Linked DNA regions of Homo sapiens: all the other regions are linked to region 1. Evidence: fine-mapped expression QTL. A gene starts in region 1. Each other region holds a variant in brackets. All regions are shown on one strand. Distances are between the middles of the regions. Region 1 holds the start of NOTCH2 (notch receptor 2). Region 2 has its middle 47 kb from the start of SEC22B. Region 3 overlaps NOTCH2 (notch receptor 2). Region 4 overlaps NOTCH2 (notch receptor 2).

The links. PIP is the estimated chance that this variant, and not a neighbour inherited with it, causes the effect. A credible set is the group of variants that fine-mapping cannot tell apart.
Region 2: its variant is the best candidate, but not a certain one, in a credible set for the expression of NOTCH2 in T cells (TOPMed, PIP 0.75).
Region 3: its variant is the best candidate, but not a certain one, in a credible set for the expression of NOTCH2 in monocytes after LPS (Quach 2016, PIP 0.75).
Region 4: its variant is the best candidate, but not a certain one, in a credible set for the expression of NOTCH2 in activated naive CD4 T cells (Schmiedel 2018, PIP 0.85).

Annotation. Positions count from the first base shown.
Region 1 is chr1:120,065,099-120,073,341 of GRCh38, reverse strand. NOTCH2 (notch receptor 2) reads left to right here and starts at 3,680. Exons shown (of 34, transcript NM_024408.4): 1 at 3,680-4,008. The coding sequence starts at 3,936. It overlaps LOC101929178 (a long non-coding RNA gene), which reads right to left and starts at 3,514. Exons shown (of 2, transcript XR_254374.4): 1 at 3,331-3,514.
Region 2 is chr1:120,125,857-120,134,099 of GRCh38, reverse strand. It overlaps the pseudogene RNU6-465P. Among named protein-coding and RNA genes, the nearest start is that of SEC22B, 47 kb to the left of the region's middle. The variant C/T (reference allele first, on the strand shown) is at 4,307.
Region 3 is chr1:120,044,508-120,052,750 of GRCh38, reverse strand. All of the region lies in intron 1 of NOTCH2 (notch receptor 2), which reads left to right. Among named protein-coding and RNA genes, the nearest start is that of NOTCH2, 21 kb to the left of the region's middle. The variant A/C (reference allele first, on the strand shown) is at 4,544.
Region 4 is chr1:120,019,269-120,027,511 of GRCh38, reverse strand. All of the region lies in intron 2 of NOTCH2 (notch receptor 2), which reads left to right. Among named protein-coding and RNA genes, the nearest start is that of NOTCH2, 46 kb to the left of the region's middle. The variant G/A (reference allele first, on the strand shown) is at 4,151.

The sequences.
Region 1 (8,243 bases):
TATTTAACCTTGGGCAAGATACTTAAAGCTCTATCTCAGTTTCTTCATCTGCAAAATGGGTATAATAATGACTGGGGTGCCTATTTCCCACGATTGTTTTGAGGATCAAATGAGATAATATAATTAAAAGTGTTTTTGGAAGGTCTAAATCACTGCGCAACTGCAAGGCATTATTAAAAGAAATCTTCCTTTTAATTCCTGCTTCCACAAACATCTCATCACATATCCTTGGGTTCCTGGGTTACATGGAGAGATTCGTGGTGTAGCTCAATCTATGTGTCATAGCTATCCCACAATCTCTTCTTCAACTTCTCCAACACACCAAGACATTCTTCCAGTCTTGCATTGTTCCCCAGTTTATATAGATATATATGTTCCTCATTCAGCATTTATGTAAAACATATATTATTGAGCACTTATGTGATAGAAACCGAGGCAAAACAGAAAATAAAACAGAGTTTTATTTTGAGAGTTTTTTTTACAGCTTATCGGCTCTGAGAGGACAGACATGAGAACAAATAAGTGCCCAATTCTGCATTTATTTTGGAAGGCAGTTTTATGTGAGTTTAAATCAGTAAAGACATAGATGTATATTTTTAGTTTTGATTAAAACTAAAACAATTGGTAGCCCTTATTCATATTTTTCTATCATTAAAACTTATCTTTAAAAAATGTCTTCAGTCATATTTTTCCCTTACTTCCATTCATATTTACTCTTTACTTCTCTTGTCCTTACCAGAATGTATGCAGTAAGTTTTCATATTGTAACATATTCAACAAAAGTTATATGTGAACATAATAGCTGCTTTCTTTAAAACGGTTACTTTGAGAAACTGCATACCTATTTTTTTTTTTTTTTTTTTTTTGAGACGGAGTTTCACTCTTGTTGTCCAGGCTGGAGTACAGTGGCACGATCTTGGCTCACTGCAATCTCTGCCTCCTGGGTTCAAGTGATTCTACTGCCTCAGTCTCCTGAGTAGCTGGGATTACAGGTGCTCGCCACCATGCCCGGCTAATTTTTGGTATTTTTAGTAGAGACGGGTTTTCAACATGTTGGCCAGGCTGGTCTCAAACTCCTGACCTCAGGTGATCTGCCCACCTCAGCTTCCCAAAGTGCTGGGATTATGACATAAGCCGCCACGCCTGGCCTGCACATTTATTTTAATAATGTTGTCATAGCTACAGTCGCTTCTAGAGTTGCTCTTTGGGGATAACTATCTTATATTCTTCTGAATATATTTTAATAGTGACAAAACTTATCTTTGCAGGTGATTTTTAAAATTTGTATGCAGCCAAGTCACTATGAATTATCTTTAGTGAGTAAAGAGGAAGATCGAACTGGTAACACTGTGGGTAAACAACTGAAAAATAATGTTATCTTTCTCTGAACATACTTGCACAAGACAAATTCCAAAAATATTTTGACTACATTATTTTTGAAAAGGGTTTCCAGTATTTCAATGTGACTACTTTCACTAATGGTACTTGCTTACCTAAAGTGCTTGTTAACATGCAGTTTTGGAACTTCATAGGTCTATGCCCATACTGACTTGTACTTGCTTAGTGTTGTTTCACATTCTAGTTCAACATCTATTATGTGATAGACACTGGGGATTAATAGGCTGTGGTCTTTGCCCATGAGGACCTCAAAACTTAGTTGAGAACACAGAAATACAAAGAGTCCTGTGTGAAAAATAAGTATCGGTGTTAAGATAAAGAAGCGGCAGTGGAAGACAGTGGAGGGACTGTCTGTTAGGGGGAGGAATTTATTGCGGTGTCGGCAAAGCCTTCTTTGGACTGAAGGATGAATTATGATTAGAAGTTCATTAAGAGGAGGAGGGAAGGGGACTACAGGAGTCATTCCAAGCCAAAGGAACAAAAGATACAGGGACAGAAACAGCAAGATATGTTTGGGGGAATCTCAAGTTAGTCAATACTGTTATTGTGTGAAGTTCACAACAGGGGCAGGGAGGACAGGAGATGGGGCCCAATGACGAAAAGGCCTTGTATGTACCATGTTTAGAAGTTTGAATTTTATCCTATAGGAGTCAGGGAGAGGTTCTATGGGTAGGATTTCCCATCCCAACAGGATTGTAAACTCCCACATCCAATTAGTCACACCTCCATTTTTTTTTTCTGTTTCTTTAACATTGTCTCGGATTCATTCCTTCTGAAATCTACCTTATTAGTTCAGGTCTTCTTAAATTTGTGCCTGGACTGTTCACCAACTCTTGACTGGTCCTGGGGCTCCAGTTCACCTCTTGCTCCCCCAACAATCAATTTTCTACAGAATTATCAGAGCAATCTTCCTTTCCATCAATCTCAACTCTGTTCAAAAACTTTCAATAGTTTTATGTGACCTAAGAGGTAGCTGCCTCCCCACCCTTTCAGCTTGCCATTCAAGGCTGCATAATTTGGTCCCAACCCCCTTTCCGTCCTTGACTCCTCTCACTGCTAACAGAGACAGAACTCATTTACTTACTCTTTTGACTGTACCTTTGCTTTCACGAGGGCTCTTTCCTGGAATGATATGTCCATACAACTATTGTTGCTGTTCTTACTTTTAGCTCTTTTCTTAGAAGCCCACTTGTACCCAGGTTTGATCACACCCCCTACTCTCCTGCCCTGGAAGTAACTACTATTCTGGTTATAGTCTCTTAATATCTATATCTATATATATGCATCCACAGATAATGTGTAGTATTGTCTTGAAAAAAATATACATAAATGGTATACTTTGTCTCCCTCTGTGATTAGTTTTTTCACTATCATTTAGTTTTTAAGATTTATCCCTATTGACATAAATAGCTATAGTCTTTTCAATTACTGTGTTGCATTTCATTTTATAAATATACCATACATTATTCATCCATTCCTCTAAGGGTGGGCATTTATGTTGTTTTCAAGGTTTTGCTATTACAGTGTTACAACGAATATCCTTAGCTTAGCTGGTCTCCTTGTCTTATACAAATTTTACTGACCTTTCAAGATCCTGCTTTCATCCCAGCTCCTCTGGGAAAGCCTTCCCTGAATCCCCCAGCCCACAGCGGCAAAGTCTTGGTACTCAAAGTTGCTTGTGCATCTTTGGTATCATCCCACTGCCAAGCACACAGCTACGCAAAGTAAGGCACTTAAGAAATATTCGCTACACGGATGAACAAATGAATGAATGAATGGGGCAGCACCACTCCGTGATGGCTCTATTCCTTTTTAATGGACTTTGGCGCCTTGGCCCACTTTCCTTCTTTGACAGCACTGGTCCTACTCCAGAGCATTCCTCTAGCTAGCAAAGCAGTGTGTGGATGTGTGGGTGTAGGTGGCGATACAGACCTCACTGGATGAGGACCGCCTCTCCCTGCAAGTTCACGATCCCGGCAAACTCCAGTGCTTGAAGTTCAGAGTCCTACCCCACCCCCCTCACCCCCACGCCCCTTCTGCACTGGTCAAGCCAGCGAGCCGCTGCAGCCCTGATCGAGTTAAGGCGCGGCGGCCCCCGGGGCCGCTGGAGAAGGATGCGGACGGGGCCAGTGACTCGTAGTAGATCCCTCCGCGCGGAGCTCGGGCCGGCGCTTCTTCCTGCGGGAAACCCCTGGGTGCCCAAGGCGGCGGGGCCGAGGCCGCGGCGACAGTGGGGCGGGGCTTGCGGTGGGAGGAGGCGGCTGAGGCGGAAGGACACACGAGGCTGCTTCGTTGCACACCCGAGAAAGTTTCAGCCAAACTTCGGGCGGCGGCTGAGGCGGCGGCCGAGGAGCGGCGGACTCGGGGCGCGGGGAGTCGAGGCATTTGCGCCTGGGCTTCGGAGCGTAGCGCCAGGGCCTGAGCCTTTGAAGCAGGAGGAGGGGAGGAGAGAGTGGGGCTCCTCTATCGGGACCCCCTCCCCATGTGGATCTGCCCAGGCGGCGGCGGCGGCGGCGGAGGAGGAGGCGACCGAGAAGATGCCCGCCCTGCGCCCCGCTCTGCTGTGGGCGCTGCTGGCGCTCTGGCTGTGCTGCGCGGCCCCCGCGCATGGTGAGTATCGGGCTGAGGGGCGCTGTCCGCGGCGCCCGGGGCTGCCACCTGGGGCGACCCTTCTCCCCCTCGGTCCTTCTCTGTGTGGGAAGGCCAGGCTCGGCCGCCGGCGCGGAGCGAGGCCACTCGCTGGGTTCCCAAGAGTTTGGACATCGCCGGGGGCCCCTCCCGTGGTGCCCCGCCAACCGCCGGGGTTCCCCGCCGCCTCTGCTCCCCGCGGCCCGGGACCCCTTACACGCCTCCTCGGCAGGAGGGAGGCCGGCAGCAAGTCTCAGAAACTCCTTTTTCGTAGTGCCAGGGTGCAGGGAGGTGGGCAGTTTTGCCCTTCAGGTTCCGCGTTTCTTGGGGTCGAGCGAGAGCCGACGGCGGGCCTCGGAGGGGCTGAGCGAAGGAATGCCAGATTCTGGCGTGGAGAGCGGGGGCAGGGCCGCCAAGCCAAACGGCCTGCACCGTCGCAGCCAGCCTCGCCTTTGCCAGGGGGCGGCACATGGGCCGGGTGTGTGGGCTTGGTTTGGATGGGGACGGGGTTTTGCGGCGCGCCTGAGTTTTGACACTCCAACCCCACCGAAAGTCCGGGGGAGCCGTGTGTGCTGCTCGCGTCTTTGAAAGGTGGAGGCAGGAGAAGTAGGGCAACTGGTGTGGCTGCATGCTGAGGCACATGATTTAAAAATCTCAACTGCTGTTATTCTTTCCGAGGCGCGGAGCTCTGCTGCTGTTTCAGGCTGTGTCCAGACCCAGGAATGTGGTGTGACGATCACCAATTCCTCCAACCTGGCAGCAGCATTTGCTGCTCCTTTGGCATGGCTGGGGGTGGGGCACGGGCGGGTGAGAAAAAGTGGATACGTTAATTCAAAGGGCTTCCTTAGAAAGCTTCTTTATGGTTGGATGTTTCTAACACGGTTGGACCAAGGAAAGGGAATCAAATCATATCTTCCCCATCCCACCCACACTTTTAGATTCTACATTTCTTCAGACCCTTTAGTGGAAATAACTTGGGCTTTGGAGCCCTGCTCTGTAATCCTGGATTCAAATCCAGCTCTGCTATATGAACTCACCAATAAAATGGGAAAGAAATTATCCAGCTAATAGGATTAATTAAAATAATGTATATTAAACGGATGACACTCCAAAGGTGTTCAGAAAGTCCTTTCAGGGCCGAGGCTGTGTTTTACTGCTTCTGAGATTGATGCTCCCAGTGGGATGCTGTCTTGTGCATATTTGTTGAACGGAAAGCAGCCCCTTCTTTTTCTGAGCCTAATCTGAATAAAGATTTTTACCTTCACCAAAAAACTAGTACATGAACTACATCTGTTTTCAAAGAAAAGGTTAGGAAGATGATGAGCTTCAGAAAAATATGGTCTTTGTTCATTGTTAACAGTCAGTCGACATGTCAATCGCAGATGTTTAAAAAGAGAACAAGGTTATTTATCACCCGAAAATAGTACTGGGTTGTTCAGCACCAACTAGATACTTCTTGGAAAGTTCAAATTTCGTACACGTCTAGGTCACTAAGAATTTCAGAAGTGGACCAGGAGGCTTTGTAGTGATGAAGCAGAGCCGTTGTTTCTGAAGCATTTAATAAAGAGCATATATGATGGTGTTTTTGCTTTTCCTTTTTCTTTGAGTGAAAGCTTTAAGTGTAGCTTTAGGATAGAGAGGAGTATGATCAATGAGACAGTCTGAGGGTAATAATCCTTGGTCTATCATTAACTTGTTTTGGTAAATAACTTAATCTTCATGATATGTAGTCTCCTCACCTATGAAGCAGGACTAAAGGAATAACCTGCTTTAGAGAATTGTAGGGAATAATAAATATAATTGTAAAGTGATTTGAAAAATTAAGTATTAAATAATATGATATCAGAAATGGGATTACTCTGACACATAGGGCTTCTTTTATTATAGGATCTCAGTGCATAAAACTATGCCCTCCACCTCTGCTCTGCTGAGGTGCTGCGATTATTAGCTAGCTTTTAGGTAGTCAAGTTGAGTGTTAGTCAAGTTGACTCAAAGGATAGGATTTAGATATTTTGATTTTTAGACAGGTGTTCTTTAGATGCTAAACTAATGCAGTAGAAGAGATTTAGAAGCCGTTTCTCGGTACAAATCTTAAATCTTCTTAGAGTCTACAGTGAAGGCTTCTTGAATCCTCTTAATTTATTATTGTGTTTTGCTAAGGTACCAGTTGCAGCACACCCTTCTAAACTTTTGAGTGTTCCTGTGTTTGGCTTGTGGCCAATTGTTAATTTAAACATCACGGAGTTTCTAAGGCAAGGAGATGTTAGCAGTATGTCTGATTGTCTAAACAGCTATCCAGGACCATCCTCTTGCTCCTTGTTTTCTTTTGCTTTGCAATGGGAAGTGACTCCCTGATTTTGCTGCCTGCTAGATAATTTCTCAGCTGAATTCTTCTCTTGCTTAAACAAAATCGGAGTAATTTTCTTTCAGATGGTGATGAAATTTAACCTAAAACTATTTTTCCTTTCACTTTCTTATTATTCCTTTTTTTTTGGTGTGGTGGAGAGGAGGAGGAGAGTGATTCCTAGTCTCTCTTATTTTTCTGAATGTTTAGATTTAAAAAATATTTACCCATAACTTCTTGGGATCTCTCTGCTCCATTCCCACCCTACTGCCTCTCCTGTAGGCTTCTATGACATAGAGGAGCAACTTTTGGTTCACCTGGATTGTAGTTGCTGACTTCAGGACCTTTAGAGAATGTTTAAATTCAGTGGGATATGCTTGGATGGTTCAGAGCAGCCTTACAATACATCTTAAAAATATCACACCCACAGAAATTCTATTTTGCCCACAAAATTTGCATTGATCTAGTTCCCACTCTGTGTTGCCATTCCTAGTGATCCTCCTCCCTACCTCTCCCATTATGGTAGAAAAAACTCTGTGTCCTGGCTACATCAAAATCTGTTGGGGTGGATCTTGGACTCAGCACCCAGGGATTCTGATAAGGTAAGTTTGAGAATCCATATTTTTTCAAGGTTTACAGGTGATTCTGACAAGTAACTTGGTTGCAACCCACTGATTAAGTACATTTTTTTTTACCTTCAGGTGTGTGTATGAGGTCTTTCTAAATTTAAGAAATTTCCATAACAAATGTAACCTTAGTCATTCCAGTGTTTAACGCTTCTGACTCAAGGAATTTAAAAATTGCTAACGTAAGAGATATAGAATATAATGTCATTTCTTCTATTTATCTGGGTGCAATATGTCTGCATTGACCCTTTAGAAGGGCTTCATATATTTAGATGATATAATAAATTCTCCACCTCTCCTTTTCCCTTTTCTTCTGTTATCTCTTTTTCCTTAAATGTCATTCATACATGTTGTTTTTTGACCCTTTATCTATATACGTCTGCAATGATTTTAGAGTAAAAAACTGCAAGGCGTGATTTGAATAAGGATATAAGAAATTTTACATCATTTTCTTTATATTGTGTTCACAGTCCATAGTTACATGCTTCCTTTCTTGATGTCTCAGTTCGAATGCCTAAATTTGAACTATTGATTTTCCTTCCACCCTTTCCTGATTTTCCTGTTTTTGTTTCTCCCCCTTTCTCTGCAAATGACTTGAAACCAAAAGGTCTTCTTTTCTTTCTTTGTCAGCCTACCGTATGTGTAGTATTTTGGACAGATCACTGAACTAGGAGCCAGAAGACCAGAATTCTTCTCCAGGTCTGTTATTAATTGGTTTGGTGACCTTGTAGGAGAGCCACTGTTTCCGTCCTCCATTTTCTGATGTTCATTGTTCATGGTCACAGAGCCAATTAGAGTTGAGACTAGAATTCCTTTCTTCTGGTGTCCAGTGCCTCATTCACTGTCCTCATTGCTTCCATCTCGTGTACAAATGCGCTTATGTGCACAAAAACTCTTATAACATCCTCAAGTGCTTATTGTTAATGCGTACATGAGGAAGGAATCGTGTATTTTCATTTATGTGTTTATTCTAATGCCCATACCCTACCCCTGTACCTGGCATGATGCCTTGGTATCTAATAGGCACACAATAAATACTTGTTCAGTCGAACAATTATTTTTAGCCATTTTCTTATTTTGGACAACTGTGGTACTCCTAGACATTTTAAAAACAGTATTTGCAGGAGTCATGCTTACCTTACATTTGGGGAAAAACCAAATTTTTCCCTTCCCCAGATGTTTCATTTTAACTTGTAATTTTGAATTTCTTTGTGTGTGGGGTTTCTTTCTTTCTTTTTCTGATCACT
Region 2 (8,243 bases), 61 kb before region 1:
TATGGGTACACAAAGGCTTACAAAGTGGTATAATGGACATTTGAGATTCAGACAGGGGAAGGTTGGGAGGAAGGTGAGGGATAAAAAACTGCATATTGGGTACAATGTATACTACTAGGGTGACAGGGGTACTAAAATATCAGACTTCACCACTATACAGTTCATCCATGTAACCAAACACCACTTATACCCTTAAAGTTATTGAAATAAAAATGTATTTAAAATTTAAAAAAGAAAACCTAAATGTGTCATCCACTACTCAAAAGTTTCCATGGCTCCTTCTCATTTAGTATAAAAGCCAATGTCTTTGATTAGTCCTGGGCCCTACCTCATCTGGCCTCCATCTGTGACTTCATCTGATATTTTTCTTCCTGTAACTCCATTCTGAACATATAGGCCTCCTAACTGTTTCTTGAATATAACAGGCCTCCTCCTGCCCCAGTGACTTTTGACTCTTCCCTCTGCCTCAGAGTCTCTTCTCCCAGATATGCATTAGTTTGTTCCTTCACTGCCTTCAGATCTTTGTTCAAATGTAACCAATGATACTTTCTTTTCCTGACAATCGTATTTAAACTTGCTATCTTCCTCCCATCCCTCAGCCTCTAGCATATCCTGTTCTTCCTTGCTTTATTCTTCCAACGCTTATCATTTTACCTGACTTATTTTTCTGGGCTGTTGTCTATTCCTCCCCCTGTAACCCATGCTCTATGAGAGCAAGGATTTATGTATTTTGCTCACTACTATATCCTCAGTGTCTTGACTATTCCTGGCACAGAGTAGCTGCTTAATAAATAATTTACTGAATGAGTGAATACATCCACAAAAGTAGTGATTATGAAAATTGGGTCATAATTTGAAAAGTGGAAAGTATGTTACTGTAAGCTGTGATGTGCACAGTGGCTGTGGCAATGTGGTGTAGCACAGTCTGGGAGCTGCAGATGAGAGAGATCTGGATTTGAATCCTGAGTCCACTACTTCCTAGTTATGTGAACTTCGGCAAGTGTACCTAACCTCTCAGTTTTATCATCTGTGGAACAGGTAGAATAATACCTCCTTCATAGCATGGTGAAAATTAAATGAGAAGATGTAGGAAAAACCTGGCACATAATAGGTGTTCTATGAACATTAACTCTCTCTCTTCTCCTAAAGAATATATACACAGTGGGTAAGAATTGCAAAATAATTGGGTAAGAATTGCAAAATAATTTCAAAGACAGGGATGATGCACTTTTATAAAAAAATTTTAATACACAAGTCCTCTCTAAGCATGGATATATATATAAAAACAGTGCCAGACTAGGAGTATGGAGACCTGGGTTCTGGGTTCACCTCTGATGCAGGCTGTGTGACATTAAGCAAATCCTAACCTCTTGGGACTGTCTTTTCATCTGCAAAATGAAGAGGTAGAATTTAGTAAGTTTGAGTCCCATCAATGCTTAAAATTCTATAATTCAGAAAGGCAGGCCATTCTACCTAGTTTCATCCCGCTTTAGCTCAGCCTTACTCAGATATGCTGGCCAGATGTTTCTAATCTTACACATAAAAGACTCTGGTATTCAGAGGCCAAAAGAAACTGGACAATTTAAGAAAAGTACTAAGCGGATGAGTTTTCCTTCTGTCTGATTCTTAAACAGCTACATGACTATTATTCAAACTTAAGAAAACAGGAAAAGAAAAGCAAGTATGCATATTTAGGTTTGAATCAACTATGTGAATATTTAGCCATGAAGAAAAGTGTGTTTTTTTGTGTGTGTTTTATTAATTATTATTTGTACAACAACCAAAAAGTAGACGTCAGCAGTTTTCAACTGTAACTATAACCTTGTACCATGTGGCTGTGGGCCGAAGTGCAGGAGGGAGTAGCTGGAAGGGAATCTGGCTAGAGCCTTCCCCTGCTCTGGAAAGCTCGTGGCTTTGTTTTTTTCACATTGCTACACCGAGACGGAGGAGAGGAGGATGTTTGGGTTTACAGGCCACCAGCCACTGTCAGCAAGTTTGTAGCCCCAGCTTCACTTCCCTGAAAGGGCGGGGGAGTTTCAGCTGCCCTGGCCTCCCTCCAGCAACTGAGCCACAGAGGATTCAAATACCCCATCAGTTGCAAGGCCCTGACTTTACCCAGCTGAAAACTGACTATCTCATCTGGGAAGGGTCAGTTAAAAAATGACAGAACTGCCTAAAGTAAACAAAGGGAACAACCACAACAGAAACTTTCTCTGCAGTGTTTCCTTATAATTACCGGCCCATCCCACCAGGGCTCTGGCTTGAGTCCCCATCCACTCTCCCTGTTGCCCCCACAGGACCTTGTTTGAGTAAGCCCTAGCTGACCTGAGGATCGCCTCCCTGTCTACATGCCTCTGTCCCGCCCTCTCCATGGAGGGGAGGGAGACTCCCGATTGCAGGAAGTTTTGAGAATGGAGTTTGAGGATTGTCAGGCAAAAAGACCCTCTAGAGCTCATTCATTAGGACCCCTAATAGATGAGTAAACAGCTTAAATGAAGTGCCTAAAGTTGAGAGCAAGTATGGGACAGAACTGGTTTTCTTCTTGCTAACCAAGTGCTCTTTCCAGTAATCATATACCGTTGTAAGGGACTAAAGATAAGGAAACTAACATTGAAGTTCTTTCTCCACCTTTTCATTCTAACCAAATCCTACTTTGTCGGACTTTTACACTTTATAGATAGGCTGGGCATGGTGGCTCACACCTGTAATCCCAGCACTTTGGGAGGTTGAGGTAAGTGGATGATGATGTCAGGAGTTCAAGACCAGCCTTGCCAATATGGTGAAACCCCATCTCTACTAAAAATAAAAACAAAAAAAAAATTAGCTGGGTGTGGTGGCGGGCGCCTGTAATCCCAGCTACTCAGGAGGCTGAGGCAGAGAATTGCTTGAACCCGGCAGGCGGATGTTGCAGTGAGCTGAGATCATGCCACTGCACTCCAGCCTGGCTGACAGAGCGAGACTCAATCTCAAAAAAACAAAAACAGAAAAACACGCTTTATAGATAAACATATTTTGAATTTAGACTTAAGGACAAGGACTAAATCTTACACTCTGTGTACCTTGTTCGTACTTCAGAGTTCATGAAGTGTGTTCATGGTCAGCAGCCAAGTAGAGTGGGTAGGACATTTGCTTCAGAGTTGAGCAAGCCTCAGAATCCCATCTCTGCACATTCTAGCTGTGTAAACTTGTAGGCAGATTACCTACTCTAAAACTTAGTTTCCACATTTGCAAAAGGGGAACAATAATAGCTCCACCTCATTATTTTGTCATGAGGATTTCATGAGATGATACATGTAATGCACATTGAAAAACTCAACAAATGTTAGAAATTGTAAATAGGTCTGGAAGGCATTTATCATTCCCATTTTACAGATGAGAAAATTAAAGCTCAGAGAGTTTAAGGGCTAGAGTCATACAATTGGTTAGTAAGATAGCTAGGATTTAGCTCAGCCTCCCAGCTCCATATCCACAGTACTTGCTGCCCCACCATTGAGTGTAGACAATTGGGGATGGCTCTAAGCTATGGGCCAAATATGTCTGTCCCTATCATCATGGAATGACATGTTATTTATTAAGCCCATATATGCTTGAGGTGCCAGGAAATGGATGCTTCTGGGGTGAGGTAGGCTCTTCATGTGCAGCCTTCATGTACAGATTCCAGCCAAGGAAATCAAGCCTGGCACTAATCCCTTGTCCAAGCCCAGAGACGCTGTGCCCACGGAGTAGGTCAGAAGTCCTTGAATATCCTCAGCTTTCCTTTCCTCTGGCAATGCTTCCTTGATGCCCTAAGAATATTTTGCTTACCCTGACATTAGAGCCCTCTTCACACTCCCAAGCTTTCTAGTATTTTGGGTGTGCATCTGATTCTCCTGTTGAAACTGGACTCCAAAGTGAAGTGCTCAAAATGGTACATAGAGGTATGAGAAAAACATATGTGAATACTTGCTTCTATTTATTTTTTAATCTAAAATATTAAGAAAATTAGGCTTTACTAATATTAAAATGTCACAGTAGAGTGTATGGAATTTATAGCAAACATGCAATTATTAGGCATGTATGCTGGTTTTCTTTTCTTTCTTTCTTTTTTTTTTGATGGAGTGGTATGAAGAAAAGAGACTAGAGGTAACTGTTCTAGAAAGTAAGCTCCTACAGGCAGAAGATGTGTCTTTTTCTAATGTGTATTCTACCCCTCCCTCATTGGCACTAAATGACTCCTCCCTGATTAAATAAATTTGGTATCTATGTAAACTTGGTGGTCTTTCTTGCTTTTCCCCTCCTTTTGTCATCCATCTGATATAATGTCTTA[C/T]TCAATATTCTCCCAAGACCTGAACAAATAATAAAGCTGTGTTAGTAAAGAGTGCAAATTGCCATAAAAAGACTGAAAAGTAAGATTCATAGTCCCCAAGGAGATGGTTAATGGTAGTCAATAAGGCATATAGTGGGCAAAAGAAAAGCTAAATGTAAAACTTCATGGAAGAACTCATGGACACAGTCAGGCAGGGAGCCCCAGCACTACAGTCTGAGAAATCAAATGTAATCTGAGCATATGTGTGTTTTCAAACTAACCACTGCCCTCTCTCTCCTCTGAAACTTGCAGAAAGCAATGCAACACAATGCAATGAGCCAGGGTCTTGGAGAAAGAAAGAAATCCCAACTCTGTCACTGTCCTGGTTGGGTGATCTTGGGCAAGGTCCATAATCACCCCCACTCCCAGGAAAAATAGTTCTTCACCTACAAATGAGGTTGAGCTAGATGATTTTGGAGGTTACTTTCATGTTTTGAAGCAGCCCATGTTTTCTTCCTGAGGCAATTTATACTTCAAGTGACACCATGAAGCTCACTGGACCAAAAATATCACCTTACCACCAAGCCTTTCATGGTTTGTGACATCCTCTCCTCAGGCACCATGTCTCCATGCGGTGCTTCCCAACCTAGCAATAACTTACTGGCATGAATCCACTTCAAGTATCAGTTATGTCCATGATGCATGTAGAGTGGGAAAGCAAGATATGAAAGGTTATATATGTGGTATGCGTATGTCTATAAATACCTACAAATATATGTGCATACACATAGAAAAAGAACTGAAAGATACTCAGCATACTTTCAACACTGATTATTCCTAGGGAGTAGGAAAGCAAGATGAAGGTATGAATTTTACCATTTACTTTAAATCCTCCTATATTTTTGTTGTTTTTTAAAAATAAATGATTTTACTATTTACAAATAAAAATTTTAAAAAATAAACATTAAAGTCCTATACAAATGTTTAATAATATTTATAATAAGTAGCACCAGTTTCTTCAAGAAGCCCTACCAGAAGCAAATCTGCATCTTGATACTGCATTAGAGCCTTGGCTGAAGTACTAATAATACCCGAACATTCTATGGAGGATTGGGCCCTGGACTGGGAGAACCTAATCACATAATCAGAAACTCTTATGAGTAATTTTGGGCAACTTGAGTTTTCCCAAACTTTACTTGAGTTTGTTTTTCTCAACTAGAAAACAATGCTTTTGAACTAAATCCTCTATCGGGAACTTTCTACTCTGAAGTCCTGTGATTCTTAACAACAGTACATGCAAAAGACACAGGAAAGTGAGTATGTCATATGGCATCCAGGATACTTTCCCCCAAAGCAAAGTGAAAACTGATGTGAAACTCCTTCTTCCTTCCTTATTTTCCTCTCTCTCTCTCTCTCCACCTCTGTTATCTAAATGCTCTATATTTGAAGCATTCATCACTTTATAGGCCTTGATGGGATACAGAGGACAACCTTTTACTTTAGAAGCTGAAAATGTCAGATACTTCTTTTCCAGCTTCCCTTACAGGTATGCATAGGCATAAGGATCTGCATTGCTTTTTGACTCAGGAGCTAGTGACCTCAAATAGCAAAGACTGCTGAATCTGTTCTGCAGCAGGGAGTGGCATTAGTTGTAATAACAACACTCATTTTTTAGATGCTACAGTGGTGGTGGTTCTGGTGGTTCTAGCAGCAGGGACCAGCATCCAGGCTTGGGGCATTCACCGAGCAGTGGTTTCCATGCAGTGGGGGCATTGATGACTTCATGATATTGTTCTGCAGTACAATTTTAGGTGTTGCTTCTGGCTATGTAGCCTCTAAACCTGGGTTTCTAGTCCTCCTGGAGAGCTTGTGAACTACCTAATATTTTTTAATAAATTCATTTACTGCTTAGATTAACTATAAATTGTTTCTGTTGCTTGCGACCGAAAACATTTACTAATGTACCTATTATTTTTTTAAAAATCATGCACTTGGAGATTATATATATATACACACACATATGTTTTTAAGGGAAAAAAACTCCCCTTCCCTTTGTTGATCCCTTATTTTCCCAGTTTCTTCTCTGGAGGTAGTAATAATGATTTGTTTCTTATGTATTCCTCCAGAGATATCTTGTGTGTACACAAGCACATCTATGTATTTAAGAAAAGTTACTTAAAAAATCACTCAAATAGGATCACTCCATATACACTGTTCCATAATTTGCTTGTAACCTTAAGACTCCATGTTAGAGATAATTCCATAAATATAAAGCTGCCTCATTCTTTTTCTTATTTTTATTTTTAGAGACAGGTCTTGCTCTGTCTCCCACGCTAGAGTGCTGTGGTGTGATTATAGCTCACTGCAACCTCTAACTCCTGAGCTCAGGGGATCCTCCTGCTTCAGCCTCCCAAGTAGTTGGGACAACAGGTACGTGCCACCACTCCTCGCTAATTTTTTATTTTTTGTAGAGTCAGGCCTTGCCATGTTGCCCGGGCTGGTCTCGAACTCCTGGCCTCAACTGATCTTCCCATCTTGGTCTCTCAAAGTGCTGGGATTACAAGTGTGAGTGACTGTGCCTGGCCTGCCTCATTCTTTTTATTGGCTGCTTAATATCCCTCTGAATGAATATACTGTAATTTATGTAGCCAATTTCCTCCTGTAAGCAGTTGGGTTGCTTACAGTTTTTGTGACTACAAATAATGCTGCAGTGAATATCGTTGTAAATATGTATTTTTAAAAAAATATGGAATGCTTCATGCATGTCATCCTTGTGCAGGGGCCATGACAATCTTCTCTGTATCCTTCCAATTTTAGCATATGTGCAGCTGAAGTGAGCAAGTAAATATGTCTTAATGCCCAGTGCAAGCAGATACATGTCTGATAGGGAAGTTGCAGCGTCAAAAGGTAAATGTAACTTTAACATTTTGATAGATAGCACCAAAATGCACTGCAAATTTAGTAACAATTTTTAATCCTACTAAAAATATTTTAGACTCCCCCCCACCAAATCTTTACGTCACCAGTGTATATTATCAGATTTTATAATTTTGCTGTTCTAATAGGTGAAAACTGATTTTCTCATTGTTCTGATTTTCATTCTTTAATTTATGAGTGAGGTTGAACATTTTTCATGTATTTAAAAGCCATTTGTAAGTATTCACCTGTGTAGTATATTCATGTCCTTTGCCTGTTGTTTTCTATTGGATTTTTATCTGTGTTTAATTGCTTTGTAAAAACTTCATCTTTTTTTTTTTTTTTTTTTTGAAATAGGTTCTTGCTTTGTCACCCAGACTGGAGTTGCAGTCTGGCACCCTCCTGACTTGGCCTTTTTTTTTTTTTTTTGAGACAAAGCCTCACTCTGTTGCCTGGGCTGGAGTGCAGTGGCGCAATCTCAGCTCACTTCAACCTTCACCTCCCAGGTTCGAGTGATTCTCCTGCCTCGGTCTCCCAAGTAGCTGGGATTACAGGCATGTGCTACCACTCCCGGCTAATTGTTTTGTATTTTTCGTAGAGATGGGGTTTCACCATGTTGGCCAGACTGGTCTTGAACTCCTGACCTCAAGTGATCTGCCTGCCTCGGCCCCCCACAGCACCCAGCCCTGCCTCAGCCTTTTAAAGTGCTAGGATGACAAGTGTGAGCCACTACACCTGGTCAAAATTCCATATTTTAAAGTAAATTTGCCTTTTGTCATACTTGTTGCAAAATTTTTTCCCAATTTGTTTTTGGTTTTCTGATCTTTTTAAATTTGATTTGATTTTTGGTTTTTGCTTTGCATAAATCTTTAATTTTCACAAAGCCAAATTTGTCTATATTTTTGCTTATGGCTCTGGATTTGTTTGGAATGGCTTTTGGCTGGGTAGCTTCTCATGGTTTCAACATTGAAGCTGCTAATTTAGAAAAACAATACTTGAGACTTCTGGTTAAAGACAGCAGATTAAACACATGCTCCACTCC
Region 3 (8,243 bases), 21 kb after region 1:
ATTTCCAGAGCAGTTCTTATTTCATGATACCGCATAATTTTATAATGTCCCTAAATCCGAATTTCATTTCTCATGATGTGAAAGGATTCTCTTTATTTCTGTTTGGTTAGCTGCATCAGAGCATGACAGAAATGGAGCAGAATTCGAGTATTCTTTCCCCAGATGGGTCAGTTAGCTTTTCTTAAAGCTATTCTGTGCTTACATTGTTAATCAGTTGTCCCTGGTTCCTAGACAGGATGTTGATCCATGTGAAATAGGCAGGAATATGTGTCTGACTCAGCTTAACTCATCACAACTTTCATATGTCCTGCTAGTGGGTCTATAATGTCACCCTCGTTTACAGGCGTTTTTAATTTTCTGATGTCTATTTCTTAGTATTTTTCCTCAGCCATTTTTAATGTCTCAAGCCATAGTTCTTCCTGAGTGGCCTGAAGTGATTTTGCTGCTCTTTAAAGCTTCCTTAAGGTTTTTCAAGAGCGTACAACATAGGCTGCTTCTAAGTGTATTTTTATTTCCTAGCTCTTAGCATTTCTCACCTTATCATTATAACTTTAAATTTAAACAGAATACAAATTGTGTACACAGATGGGTGTGTCACTATTGCACTGTCACTTATGTAAGTGCAGTTTAGCATTTCTTCTTTCCTTTTAATCAAAATGAGGAAATAGAAAATGTTTTGTTATGGTAGTTTTACACATACACCCACAAGGAAATGTGTATCTAGAGTCTGTGGGAACTGTGACTTGATACATTTCAGGGAATAAAATGTATGATGGCTAAAATTTTAACTCTGCCAAATGTTCACGGGGAAAGAAAAATTAACAAACTCACATTTTACACTTTATTTTAGCCTAGTCTCTGCCTTGTTTACATCTATATGATAATGAAGCTATACTTGTCTTTCCACAACAGTGTATTTTATAAGTTGTACCTTTTGTTTAAGGGAGCCTTCTTAACAAACTTTCTTTCAGTTGTCCAGTGTACAGAAGCTTACTGGAAGGAGTGGCCAACTAGTTAAAGGTTTGACACCTCAATATCAACAAAATGCCAAGTGGATCATTTTGACTCTCACAGCAATCCAACTGGACATTTGACCATGCCCCGTGGTCAGTGGAGAGCTTCTTCTCTGAAGGCCACTTTTATCTAGCACATCAAGGCTATACACCTCTTTCACTAAGAAGAATTTGGCACTTTTATGTTGTGAGAGCTGAGATTCACCATTCTCCACCATCCTGAGAAGAGCTTTGATAGAAGGGCTACTCCTGAGGTACATAGATTATCCAAAATACATACAATTTTTTCATAGAAAATTATATATGTATTATAATTTTTATTCAAGACAGGTTGAAATTAATAGATTTCTTACATTCACTGCATTAAAGGAATATTTATGGCTTTGGTAATATTTTAAATTTCAAATTAAAAAATTTGAATATCTGAATTAAGTATCTCTGATTTAACTCTGTGTGTGTGTGCGTGTGTGTGTGTGTGTGTGTGTGTGTGTGTGTGTGTGTGTGTGTGTTGGGAGGAGGAATAGACCTTGGAATTGTTTTTTCAAAACTTTTTTTATAATAGTGCCTAATCTCAGTTGGCAAGGAATAGCTGTCCAGAATGCTGCATAGATCTAGTGAAAAGATTTAGGGAAGTTGTAACTAGTTTAATAACCATCTGTGGAGTGACATAGATTGACACACCCAATTACACAAGACCTGAGTCTGAGAACTGTTGATGTGCAATCATCCCATCAGCATCTGCTCGTCATTATCAACAACAATAATGGCTCAACTATTTCTTTGAGGCCACATGAAAAGACAGTGTACCCATAGCAAAGGATAAGTCAGACCTGAAAAAAACATAGCCCTCTGCATCCCCTTGTTCCCAAACTTCTTTTTAAACATAACCTTTTGTGAAGTTCTGAAAGAATTCATTTTATGTTTTCTTTTTATTAATTTTTCTTCTTAAATACCATGTCTTTCTGGCTGAAATCCTTGCCAAAACCAGGAAGGGCCAGTGTACTGTGGGTGATTTTTCTAATTCATTTCTTTGTCATTTGAAGCCTTCTGTGGCTTCATGCTGCTTTATGTGTGTGTAAATATTCAGTATCTTTTCTAGTTTACACTTTTGTCACAACTGCTATTAAGCCACCTATGGACACATTCTAATATAAATTATTTTGGCCACTGTGAGTGGGAGGGAAAGAATCAGTTCACAGGGATAAATTTGCATGTTGAGAAGATAATATATAATAGTTTGCAAAACACTTCTATGTACATTGTATCTTTTATAGAGACAAGGCCATGTTTTTATTTGTAGAGACTGAGACAGAGACCCCATGAGATCTAATGCAGAGTCACATGACTCCAAAGCCAGGTCTTCTATCTGCTCTTTGGTATATAACTGGATCATTATTCTATTGACAGAAATAAGGAATCTTCTTATTTTTCAAAGGCACCCTTTTGCCCTTGGAAGGTATATTTAGAAATCCTTTACCAGAGTAGAAAGAAGACAGTTATATTTTCCTGCCTTTTGATAAAAAACAGTGTGTTTTTTCTAAATCTTGTTGTGTTTGACTAGAGTCTGATTAAGGTACCTTTTGGGAAATTAAGGTTCTATAGAAATTACTGGGCTCAATCTAGTGATACAAATATGTGTTGTTTGATTTATCAACACATTACAAACCTTAACTTTGGAGTTTTAATATCTGGTTATCTTTAATATCTGGTTATCTTCTTTCTGAAGTGTATGTACACAAAATTGATGCTAAATAAGGTCTTGTTGTTTTGGCAAATAGTGAAATGCAAGGTATTGGTAGATCAGTACTGTTATAACTTTGGTGCAAAGTTGCTGCATGCAGATTGGCTGTGGGACCTTGTTCATTTTTTGAGAACTAATGTAGAGTTTGAAAAAACACCGTAAGCCTGCATTCCAGAAGTTCTGGTATGGATAGTGTGAGCCCAGGGAATGTGCTTAGATAAAAGATCATTTAACAAATAGGTTTTGCATTTTTTTAGCAATCAGGCTTTGTGCTGAATATTAGAGTGGTTGTTTCAGAGAGTTTGCAGCAATTAGGCTTTATTGGTGCACTAAGGAGAAGCAGAGAGGAGAAGCAATTCTTGGTAACTTCCTTGGAAGTTGCAGCTAACTCTGAAAAGTCTGGGTTGAACTAGGTAAGTAACTAATTCCTAGAATCAATAAACTTTGCAGGAGTCCGTTTGATTGTACATGTAGCTCCCTGGAATTGCTATTGGTCCCTAAATCATCAGTTTGTAATGCTGGTTTTCAAACTTGAGTGCACATCAAGTTTTGGAGGACTTGTTAGAATACAGATTGCTGGGCTCACCCCCAGAGTTTCTGATCTGGTAGGTCTGGAGCGGGACCTGGTAGATTGCATTTCTAAAAAGCGTCCAGGTAATACTGCTGCTGTTTGGGAAAGTACACTTTGAGAGTCACTGGCTTACAACAATCTCAAGGTGTTTGGATTTTTGGGCAGGGGTGCTGTGCAGGCGTTGCTGGGATCTCTTCACAGCACCTCCACTGCATAGAGGTGAGCCTCCAGATGTTTTCATTCATTCAACAAATATATGTACCTATTGTGTGCTGGGCACTGCTTAAGTTGCGAGGGGATATTGTGAAGAAAGTAAGCAAAACCCCTTTGTTTGTAGAATTTCAGTGAGCATAGTCCTGGGTTAACCTGACAACAGTCCTACTGTTTATTGATGCTTATAGGTGAGCCTATTTCTCTTTCTAGCTTTCTTCCACTTAATTTACTTTCTTTTGGAATTCTTGAATTTAATAATAATAATATTGATGTTATTAGTCATCACTATAACTTTTTATTGAGTGTGTATTTTATGTCAGACACAGTGTGGCTAAGTGCTTTACATACATTATCTCATCTAATCCTTAGAAAAAACCCTGGTGTATTAGTCTTAATTTAAAAGATGTACTTTGGAAAGGTTAGTAGTTTACCCAAGATTATGCAGCTAGTTAAAAGTGGTGCTGGGGCTGGGCTTGGTGGCTCACACCTGTAATCGCAGTGCTTTGGGAGTCTGAGGCAGGAGGATCGCTTGACACCAGGAGTTTGAGACTAACCTGGGAAACATAGCAAGACCCCATCTTTACGAAAATAAAAAAATTAGCCAGGAGTGGGGGTGCACACCTGTGGTCCCAGCTACTTGGGAGGCTGAGGCAGGAGGATTGCTTGAGCCCCAGAGGTTGAGGCTGCAGTGAGCCATGATTATGCCACTGCACATCTGTCTGGGTGACAGAGCAAGATCCTGTCTCCAAAAAAAAAAAAAAAAAAAAGTGGTATTGGGCCTGTCTAATTGCCAAGCCACATTCTTTACTGCATGCTTTAGTCCATTGTTTTTTACACTGCAGATCATGACCACGAATGGGTCATGAAACCAATTTGGTAGGTCTCCAACAGCACTTTGGGGGAAAAAAGGGTAGAATAGAGAGTATCACATAGTATGGACAAGCATTGTTTCTTGAAATTTTTGTTTTTGCTATGCACGTATATATGTGAATATTGAGGTCTGGT[A/C]CAAGATATATTTCTCACTGTAGGTCACAGTAAAACATGTTGGTAAGCTACTATTTTCTTGGCTATGGGACTATATGTCATCTAATCACTTTTTAAAAACAGATTACAAACTGTAGGCCTTAGAAAGGTAAGTAATTTTTCAGCTGGGCATGGTGGCTCATGCCTGTTAATCCCAGAACTTTGGGAGGCCAAGGCAGGCGGATCACGAGATCAGGAGTTCAAGACCAGCCTGGCCAATGTGGCAAAACCCCGTCTCTACGGAAAAAAATGCAAAAATTAGCTGGACATGGTGGCGTGCACCTGTAATCCCAGCTACTCAGGAGGCTGAGGCAGGAGAATCGCTTGAACCTGGGAGGCGGAGGCTGCCATGAGCTGAGATCACGCCATTGCACTCCAACCTGGGCAATAGAGAGAGACTGCATCTCAAAAAAAAAAAAAAAAACCAAGGTAAAGTAATTTTTCAAGAGCACAAAAATAGTCAGTGGCAGTACAAAGACAAGATGACTGACTTTTTTTTTTTTTTTGAGACAGGGCCTCACTCTGTCACCCAGACTGGAGGGCAGTGGTGCGATGTTGGCTTACCACAACCTCCACCTCCCAGGCTCAAGCGATTCTCCTGCCTTAGCCTCCCGAGTAGCCGGGATTACTGGGGTGTGCCACTACCACCCGGCTAATTTTTTTGTATTTTTAGTAGAGACGTGGTTTCACCATGTTGGCCAGGCTGGTTTTGAACTGCTGACCTCAAATGATCCACCTGCCTCAGCCTCCCAGAGTGCTGGGATTACAGGTGTTAGCCACTGTGCCAGGCCAGATGTCTGACTTTTTAGCCCTTGGTCCATTGCTTTATTCTTCACACCATACCACTTCCTTAGAAGTGCACCTGGGAATGCCTGGGAATTGAATTTTATCTTTCCACATGATGGCAGATATGCTATGGAACCTTCAGGGATGTCGATGAAACCTGAAAAGGGAAGTTGAATCTCAGCCTGCTCTGAGTAGGTGAAAATTCTGCCTTGGATCCCCCAAAGTCTGCAGATAAAGATGTGACATTTCTCGTGTTCTGCTGTGCTTGAAGGAAAGAGGGTAATAATCTTAACAGTGCCAAGCTGTAAGCATGTTGCATATATTAACTTGTTTAATTACTAATTATTTTGATACAGCGGCCATGCCTGGGATATGAACTCAGCTGTTTTGAGTGAGAAGGGGCATCCTACCAGTGTGAGTTAACACTTCTCTGTACTCTCCCCGGTTCCTCATTTTGTTCCTGCTGAGTTCAGAGCGATGTTCCTCATAGCCTGGCTTACCTGTGGATGTTCTCAGCCTCATTTTCTTTTGCTAGATCATATATCTTCATTAGGTGGGTGATTTTGGTTTCTGTTACTTTTTCCTTAATATTAGTATATTGCTGATTTGGATCAGGGGCCAGGCTGTAGATTTTCAGCATGGTGAGGTGATAATACATGTTGGTCCCCCATGCAGAATGCTGCCTCTAGCACTTTAGCCAAAGGAGCTCTACAGTCTGTCCAGAAGTACTGGGGGACACTGGTAATAACCTGAGAACACTTACAGAGCCTTCCAGAAAGTGCCCTTTCACATCATATAAACAGATCATGGGAAGCTGAGGGAATGCAAAGTCAAGGCCTCATTGGAGAGCGGAAAGGAGGCTGAGATTGGTGGAGAGGAGTGGCTGTTACATTCTAATTAGAAGAATGACATGTGCAGGGCCATGAAGCAACTAAAGATGGGATGAAAAACTTAACTTGTGAATCGCAAAATTTGAGTAGGAAGGAGCTGGAAAGGCCTGGAAGTGCGAAGTGATTGGCCCTTGGTCAGATGGCTAGAAGATAGAGAGCCAGGCATAGAACCCAGAATCCAGGCCATCATTTTGTGGCCTCTTTTATCCTAATGACATGTTAGCCAGAGGTGTCTTCCAAAGCACCTGATTATAGGGAAGAATGAATGTCACTTACCCTAGAGTGAGTGAAATAGAGATGCCAGGAAGATATACCAGGTTTATCCAGTTTCTTTGCATTTTTCTGGCATACTGTATACTCTTGAGCGCATATGTATCCTACTTTGTGAAATCTGGGGGTAAAGCAGGACCCTTCAAACCCTTAAAAAATGTATACCCCAAGAAAAACATTTTTAAAGCATGAACGCTTCCTCAAGTAAATACATATTTATACATTATATAAATGTCTGGCTATTAAACCATGTATGCATATGTTAACTCTAAGTAAAGCTTATATGTTTTTTAGCCCATAAATATGGAGATGTTTTAAAATTTCTTCCAGTGCCCCAGTGGATGGTCTTACACCTCCCCTGCTTCTGGGGTACACACACCTAATTTTGCAGACCACTGGTCCAGAATGTAAATTGAAGAGTTTAATGTCTAAGATATTTGTTCTTTTGTTTGTAGCTTATCTTTTACTCCCCACGTTTCAAATATCCCTTTGCAAAATAATTTTTGAGTTAAAATTTTCAATTAAAAAACTGTATACTTGAGGTAGAAAAGATAAAGATAGAAGATATATGTGAATTAGGTTGTATCTCTCCTTAAGAGGGAATACTGTTTTTTATCTAAGGAGAACTAACAACCCTCCCTTTCATTGTCTGGGTTGGTATAAGTAAAAATCCTTGTTTGAAGTTATTAAGCCTTCCCACCCATATGATGATTAGTTTGGTTCATAAGCTAGAGTTAGGGCTTGGTAAAGGCTCCTTTTTTTTTTTTTTTTTTAAAGTCTTTCCACCTTAACTAGCAAGTAAGCTAGAAATGACAGAGCAGTAGAAGGGGGAATCTACCAGAGTGTCCTACAGGACCTTGTTGAATGCTACTGCTGCATGCAAGGGTTGTGGATTTGGTGTGGGCCTTCTGCAGTATCACCCAAATTTGAGCAGTACATGTAACTAAAAGTAAGAAAAATAAATTAGACAGTTTATTTCATTTCAGACTTTGGAAGCCCAGGACTGTGGGGATTAGCTATTAGCTAAGACAATGATTCACTGAGCAAATGCAGTGAAAGATTCTTTTGTTACACTGATCATCATTTGTGGAGAGACTCTGAAGAAGGATAAAGCTCTGGCTGCATAGTCAAACCAGACCTACTACTCAAGGACATGCATACTAGATATGTAGGTGTTTCCAAATATTTTTTTCAGTTGTGGCGGTGCAAATCATTTCAATAGTAGAGTAACTCAGTTCATTACTGTTACTGGAAAAACAAGTTTAACCAAGCACATATCCTACTGAGGGTGAGTCAACAGTGTCATTTTAACATAAGAAGGACAGTACATGAAGTGAGTTATTCCAAGTCCTGTGGTTTTCCTACAGCTGAGCAAAGACAGCTGTTCTTTCGGAAGTGGGGCTCTAAAAAGAAGTTGCCCATCTCCTTTCTTTCTTGATTATAGCCTTTTAGTTTTCTTTTGGCCTGAGACATTTCAAAAATTCATTTCCTCCTTAGATTTCTATCACCAAATACCCTGAATTTTGATAATTTATTTATAGAGTATATTATTTATTATAGACTTATTATAGTTTAAAACTTTATTTTAATTTATCTCCCATTTCAAGATCCACATTTGCTATATGTGTCAGATAATAAAAATGCCATAAGGAAAACAGAGGAGTGATCTTTTTTAATATGTCATTATTTTCTATAGTTCTTTAGTGGTATGGACATGGAATAAGGTGGCATTTTGT
Region 4 (8,243 bases), 46 kb after region 1:
TGCACATTCTGCACATGTATCCCAAAACTTAAAAGTAAAATTTAAAAAAAATTTATTTACTTCACATAGCATTCAGGGTGGTAATACCATACAGAGAGGCAAATTGGTTCTATTTGAAGATCATTCAACTTGGTGACTTATATATGGAGAATTTCAAATATGTTCTAAGTGTTCGCCTATATATTTTTGGTCTGACATGGGGAAAGAAGGTTTCTAGGGGAGACTAATCTCTGAGCACTTACCAGGAGAGGACACCTAAGGGTCACTGTTGGGAAGAAGTCCAATAGTTCTTTGTTGGACTGTTGGGCTGCTAGTCTCATACTCTCCAACCAAGGTTGGAGACCATCCTGGCTAACACGGTGAAATCCCATCTCTACTAAAAATGCAAAAAAATTAGCTGGGCGTGGTGGCACGCACCTGTAATCCCAGTTACTCGGGAGGCTGAGGCAGGAGAATGGCCTGAACCCAGGAGGCGGAGCTTGCAGTGAGCCAAGATTGCACCACTGCACTCCAGCCTGAGCGACAGAGCGAGACTGTGTCTCCAAAAAAAAAAAAAAAAAAGAAAATGGAGCTGCCTAAATTCTGTCCCTGGCTACTTGTTAATTGTTGATAGGATGGAATGCTTATGGATACAGTTCTGGGTATGTCCCTCAGATGTCTTTCCTGTTTTGAGGGAAACAAACTCCTTGAGAGAGAGTAAGAAAAAATTTGGTGAGGCCATCCTTTTGGGAGACCAAGATGAACAACAAAACTTGTATAAAGAGAGTGATTCCCTACCTCAGCAAAAGTAATATTAGCATATTTAGGAGTGGCAGGGTCAACATAAGTGGACAAAGAAAAAGCAAGAACAATATCAAGGCAGCCATGTCAATCATTCTACAGTGCTTTGCCAGCCTCCACAGAATTTTAAGCAAAATTTTATGCAAAAATAATGTGTACCTAGCAGAGCTTTCAGTGTATTTTCACCAACCTTACCTTTTTTTCTGTGGAGAAAGAAGATGATCTAGCTTGTTCAGTAAATATTATTTTCACAAAATAGAAAATAAATATTAAAACACTTAGAAGATTTATAAAAATTCTATCAGGCATGCAGGGCATGTGATTATCTTTTTATTCATGCGATTGCTTAGTGGATTAAGAAAAGAAAGTTGAAGCCAAATTCCTTTTACAGGGCCAGCGTAGGGGTGAGTGGTGAGTGGTGGGATGGGAACTGGTAGAAAGTGTTTTAAAATAGAAGGAATCTGACTATCTGTTTAGACAGCATAATGCTACTGATTCAGCTAAAATATAATGATTGTTTATAGAAATTATAAAAATCCTTGATAAGATCACATTGACAGATGAAGATAACTACTTTTGAAGATTAGTTTTGTACTCAGCTCCACTGTTTTTTCTCACTGTTAGGAGCCTAAGTACCCTATCAGTCTGTGATTAGATTTTGATGCCAGATTAGGAGAACGTGTATAATCTTGCATAAAACTCAATTATTGCTGTTAAATAACTACTGTCAAATCTTAATAAAGCTGTCTCACTACAGGGAGATAAGATATTTTATTCTTTCCCTTGTCCTACTGGGAGGTGTAAATATGTAATTAAATTTGATGTCATTAATCACTTTCAAGTTGTTTGCTTCAGACTTTCAAATATAAACCATTCTAAATCCCAATTTGATTAAAGATCATGGACAACTCAAGTTCACTAGGATTCTGGGGGTAGGTTAGGTTATGATTTGTATAATTGACAAAATATGTATTTTAAGGACATTTATTGTAGTTATTTAAAATCTTTGTCTGCTGGTTCTTAACATCTGGGTTGTCTATGGATGTGTTTCTGTTTCTATCAACTGCTCCTTCTTTGGACCATGGGTATGACTTCCCTTTACTTTACACATGTATGGTAGTTTTACATTACTTACTGGACATTGTGGGTGATAGATTTTAAAGTTTATCTCCCACTAAAGAATGTTGAATTTTGTCAAGATTGGCAGATCATCTTGATCCTATGGATGCTAGGTTTTAGGACACGTTAGGGTGGGCCTACTTCTGTTCTGCCCTTAGTCCGATGACACAAATCTTAGTCATGGGATAGGGTTCTTATTCCCAAGATGTGACCCTTCTAGGGGTTCAGTGGTAAGTGTGAGGGGCCTACCAAGCCCTGAGGTGTTCATTAAGCCCCTCTAAGGCAGAACTTGTCCTCCCAGCCCCAGGAGCCTTCTGCTCAGTCTTTTCAGCCGTCCAGCTCTTACTTTCTCTTGGGTTTCTGAATCTTATCTTGCTCATGCATAGTCAGGAATTATTTAAGGATTTGAGCAGAGTTGTATGCATACTTTGAAGCTACCCACTCTGTGGTTCTGTCTTTTCCAGGAATTTTTCTCCTCATATTCTAGCTGCTGTGACAGCTCCAGATACCTCTGACTCCTCAGTATCACAGGACTTCCATTTTCTGCTTGCACACTCTTCCTCTTCTGCTGCATGAACTGGGGTGTACCTTCACGATAAAAAAAAAAACAAAACTGTAAATGTGGGTTTCATATAGTTTGCTTTGCTTTTTCTGAGGCTTATATCCCTTCTAGTTTATGCCTGCTTTCAGTGATTCTCCAGTGCCTTTGATATTTTGTCCAGAGCAAGAGGGCTAGTCTGATATAAGTTACTCTGCAATTATTTTTAATGATGAAAATTGGAAATATAAAGGGGCCTTTCAGAATTTCATACATACCACTTGGTAAATATCTAACGTAGTGTTTGTAAAACAGCAGAAAGTCACTGTGAGTTGTATACATTCCTGTAGATGGGTGCTTGCATTTGAGAATGTCCACTTTTTGCTAAAGTGCTGATCTAAAAACTACACTTTAAGGTAAATTATTATAAATATAAAGTGTTATAAAATATAACTTTGTGTCACATTTTGTCTAAAACTTGTCTGCTAGCTGTAATAAACATTAAACATTAACAGCTAACAATTTTCCTTGCCAGGATTAGGCAGTCATGTTGGTGGTCCAGATTTCCTGAATCCATCCAAGAAAAACTAGAGCCATTGCCTTCTTTGTCTTCTTGGTAAATGTCTGTATAGTAAGTAGAGAGTAGAGACACTCATAATCCCTTAGAACTTAGCTTTTTATGGAGGATGCATTCGCAATGGTTCTGTTGTGGTGCTTCTCCCCCAAAAGGGCGTTTTCAGAAGTCATGGCTGACTCAGCATTTCCCCTTTTCCTTCACCTTCTTGTGAGTGCATTCAGGGAGGCACAGGGGCATTGTCAGATCAAAGAAATAGACAGGGAAAAATATCAACTGTTAAATTACTTTCTCTTTCTTCTCAGCTGAAACTGGTTCTGCCAGCCTAGTTCCTTCAAGTACGGTGCCTATTTAGCTGAACATTGTGTATATAGTTTTTCTGGAAAATGATAGCAGAAGCTTGGCCAGTTTTCCATAGTTCATTTATCTTTTTAACATAAAACAAAGAATGCTGTTTTCTTGGCTCATTAAATACCTCTCATAGAGTAATCTTTTCTTAAAATGTAATGTGTTCAGGTTTTATTAATTCAAGAGTTATTTATTGCATGCTATTTATGAGTACCACATATAACAGATAACTCAAGTCTGTGGTAGTAGTTGCAGTTAATCAATATTGTTATCATATTATTTCACACTTCTTTGGGAAGTCATAAAATAATTACCAGTTCATTAACTTGGGCTTCTTAGAGAGGTTCAGAGTAAAGCCAAGTATGAAAAAAACTGACTATAATGTGGCCTTCTGTACAGGGGCCGCCAGTGAATGGCAGGGCTGGGACCATGGTGAGGCAAGTAAGGCACAGGCCTCTCTTGTGAAATTTAAGAGAGTGCCAAAAAACTCACTAATCAAAATAATGTTTGTATGTAGTTGTTCAAAAAATCAAAATTAATGCAAAATAAGTTGAAAATTATCAAAATTTTAAATAAGGAGATAAGTACTACTGATTTTTTCTTTTGCCTTATGATCTAGTATGGTTCAGCCTGCACTGGTGAGTGGAGTAAGGGTCCTGGAAGATCCTTGACTGGTGACATGAAGAGGACATAGTTTTTTGTTGTTGTTTTTTTTTGAGACAGAGTCTCGCTCTGTGGCCCAGGCTGGAGTGCAGTGGCGCTTTCTTGGCTCACTGTAAGCTCCGCCTCCC[G/A]GGTTCTTGCCATTCTCCTGCCTCAGCCTCTCAAGTAGCCGGGACTACAAGCGCCCGCCACCACGCCCGGCTAATTTTTTGTATTTTTAGTAGAGACGGGGTTTCACTGTGTTAGCCAGGATGGTCTCTATCTCCTGACCTCATGATCTGCCCGCCTCGGCCTCCCAAAGTGCTGGGATTACAGGCGTGAGCCACCACACCCAGCTGAGGACATAGGTTTTTTTATGCCAGATAGACTTAAGTTTGAGTCCTGATTCCTATTAACAATTGGATCTTTGGCAAGTTAAAGTCTATAATGCTAGCTAACATTATTGCGTATTAGGGTCTGTTCTCAAGTAGTTTAACATGTATTTACTTTAGTCCCCATGTGAGAGAGAGACTATATGGAAGCTAAGAGAAGTTAAATAATTCACTCAAGATCCCATCACTCTGTAGCTAACCTGAGATATACTCGTGGAAAATGTACTGTCACCTTGAGTCTCAGTTTGCCTGTCAATAAAATGGGACAGAATTACCTGTTTTAAGTTTGTAGTTCAAATGGAACCTTCTGAAAAGGAAGTGTGGAACATTTGAAAGTATACAAAAAGGGGACTTTTCAGATCAGGAATATGATTAAAACACTGCTTTATGTAATTTCTAAATTTAAAGACAGTAGCATTAGGTAGGCCTGAGTACCTCATATCATTCTAGAACACTAAATCTGCATATAGTTACATGAGTGTACATGGGCCAGGTTTGGTGAATACTGCATTTCTGAGAAATGGCCTTTAACATGAAAGCTCAATGTAATAACTGTGGATGAAATAGAAGAAGAGGGCAGTGAAGGTGGGGATAGAGGATATTGTCTATTAAAGTGTGCTTCAGTAGAGAGAACTAATTTGAAACTTCTCCTTTCTTTTTACTAATGGAACAGGAGCAAGTCCAGACAGATTTATGCAGTTGTGAAATTGAGACAGGTTAAATTCAGTGATTTTTGATAAATGTTGTTGCCAGCACAAAAGTCACAAGTTGTTGAATATGGCACCTTACATTTGCATAGTGAGTTACAGATGCATATGAGTATGTCCTGTGAGGCTTTTCCTTGTATTAGGACTTGAGATCTGGACCCTTTAACAGTACCATTCCTAAGTGATTCTTATTAATACTTATGTCCTATTAAAATCCTTTATCAAATATGATGTTTCCCTAAGGGGTCTTTTGTAAAGGAAGTCTTGGTTACTAGCATCTCCATCTGTGGCCCAGGCTTGAGTGCAGTAGAGCAATCATGGATCACTGCAGCCTCCACCTCCTAGGCTCAAGCCATCCATCCTCCTGCCTCAGTCTCCCATTTTTAAAACTTTTTATAGAGACACGGTCTCACATGTTGCTCAGGCTGGTCTCGAATTCCTGGGCTCAAGTGATCCTCCCACTTCTGCCTCCCAAAGGGCTGGAATTACAGGCCTGAACCACTGTGCCTGGCCAGTTAGTAGCTTCTTAACACATAGCAACATAATTTCCATACTATTTTCAACTAATTTTTATTCTTTCAGTTGGGACCTTTATATATTTCAGTGTTCAGTGAAGAAGTAGGAGAATCTGGTTCTTAGGCTCTGCCTATATCCTTTTACCTGTCTTGGGTAACTGCCAAGAAATTAAATCAACAAATTTTGGCCTGCAGTCTGGCATTAATAGATGTGAATTTAGCTAGGTTTCTTTCAACACAGTCTCCAGGTCAATCGTAATCTTATGTGAAGTTTCTTATTCAGGCATGTCTCATTAGCACCATTAATTTCACACAGGAATTCTTTTTTTCTCCCTTTTTTTGTGACTAAGCAAAATGAGAAATATTTCTCTTTCAGGATATGGAGAGGCTTAATTAAATTCTTTAATTTTGTCTACATCTGCCCTTATGAATGATAGCAAAGGAATGGGGGATATCAGAATATGAGAAAAAGTAATCATCTAAAAATTTCCAAGCACTTTAAAATTTGTTAAGCTAGCATAAATATGTGGGTGTGATAGAGGTTTTCATTAGGCCTCCTCTCAACATACAGTAGTTAGGAATGAAGTTTAGTGTCTCTCCGTCCTCCTGTCATATGTGTGTATGCACACATGTGTGCACATGCGACTGTGTTATGCATTTTGTTTTCATATTTCTTTTAGTTGAGTTTTACCTTACAACCCAACGTAAGGTAAATTAAACTTTCTATTGGATTTCCGCACATTTTCTAGATCCTATTTATTCACTGTCAGTGACCTTCACTAGCACTTAGTCCTCTGTGTCCAAAAATGTATTGCCAATTCTTAGACTCCATCAGCCTTCTCCTATGAAAAAGTAATGCAGTTAATTTCTGCTCGAAATGCTCTTCTCCTAAACAGTCTTCTACTTGATCTTTATGAAAAGAGTTTTATGAAAGAAAAGTGAAAATAAAGACTAAGAAAGGCATTATTTAAGTGATGGGTGATATTATTCAGCGAACACATTCAACTAGAGCATTCTATCCAGTTTTTTGCCTTCACGTAAATATGAGGAGAAAGGTAGGTGTTAATAAGAAAATAATCTGATTAGGATTTATGTAGAATGGTAGCATTTAGACTATTAAATCTGTATAGATTCAGGTCATTTTCCTGCAGTCACTGTCTATAATCCTGTGTGCTGAACACTGAAAGTTAGATGGACTCTGAAGCACTATAGAATCCTCACTTTTCAAACAAAAGTTTAATTTTTATCACACTAGTATTTATTGAGCAGGCTACTATAACTGATCACTGTACTGGGTATTGTGAATACCCAGAAAAGCCCAAGAGGCCTGTGTTACCTGACTTCCTTATTCACAAGTATACGTACCCAGAGACTGTCTGACAGTGAATGCAGTTTCTCCTGCATAAGACATGGTGGCAGTCTTCTGAAGTCTTGCTGGGGAGATGAAGCATACAGAGATGTGTAAAATAAAACAGTTTGTAATATCCCAGTGTAGGGGCACAGATAATAACTATGGACACTCAGACAAAGGAACAAGTACTGTGGGACAAAAGAGTAAAATCAGAGGACTTTTGGTGCACTGCTTAGATCCTAAATCTTTGAATATTAGTGGTGCCTTAGAAGACGGATAGGTAGGAGAAGGGTGAGAGGAAGGGAGCTGAGGAGACTAGAAGGGACTGTTATTTCCTGGAATAATCATTACCAATTTCTTCATCACATTTTCTTAATGACACAGTTTCAAACGTTTTCTTCATCTTGATTGCTGTCTTCTGTGTATATGCTGGTTTGTGTGAGGTTTTACTAAACCAGTATGTGGATTAATCTAGTTTCACAGTGACAGGTAAGTGATTTAGAAAATCCTTCCTTTAGCACATGTTAACTTGAACGTTTGGAGGTAGAATGCCTAGAGTGAGGGTGAAGGAGAGGACCTGGGGACAGGAAGAGAGGGCAGCTGGGAGCAATTATGCTCCTTCCCTCAGACCTTTTTGGCCTTGACTCTTGATTCTTGTACTTCTACCAGACAGAGAGGCGGTAGGCTTGTGGCCATGTTTTGCGAGGAAAATCAGAATCTAAGAATCTCTAAGGCAAGAGCAAGAATGGATTGGGATAGGGAAAGTGATAGGAAAACAGAGGCACTAAGAAGAGGGTTGGTTTTCATGTACTGCATAGTTCATTCCCTTAGTTGAGAAATCAGGTATCTCAACCTCAGATATCTTCTGTCCAGCATATCGCTGGCCAGATCTGATTCATATGAGGGATCCAGAGTAAGGAAGCATCTGTTAGCCAAGTCTTTGGTTACCCCAAATTAGCTCAGGTCCTTTACTGCTTGTTTCCTCTGATTATATAGTACATATCCAAACCCTCAATTTTCCAGAATAAACTAGGTCTGCCTATTCTGTGTGGAAAACATTTGATGGTGGTTAAGATTCTCTTGCCTAGACGATGGTAGTGCCTTAGTCGTTTAACTGCCTGTCACTTTAAGATTTTGAAATACTGGTTCTCGTTGTGTAAGCCAGACACATCTTGAGAATATTTTACGGGGCAACTTGCCCTTTCTGAAACCTCAGTCATCCTGAAAAGTAACTCTGTACCTCCTTGACTTTAATTTTTCTGTCTTAATTCTATTTGTAT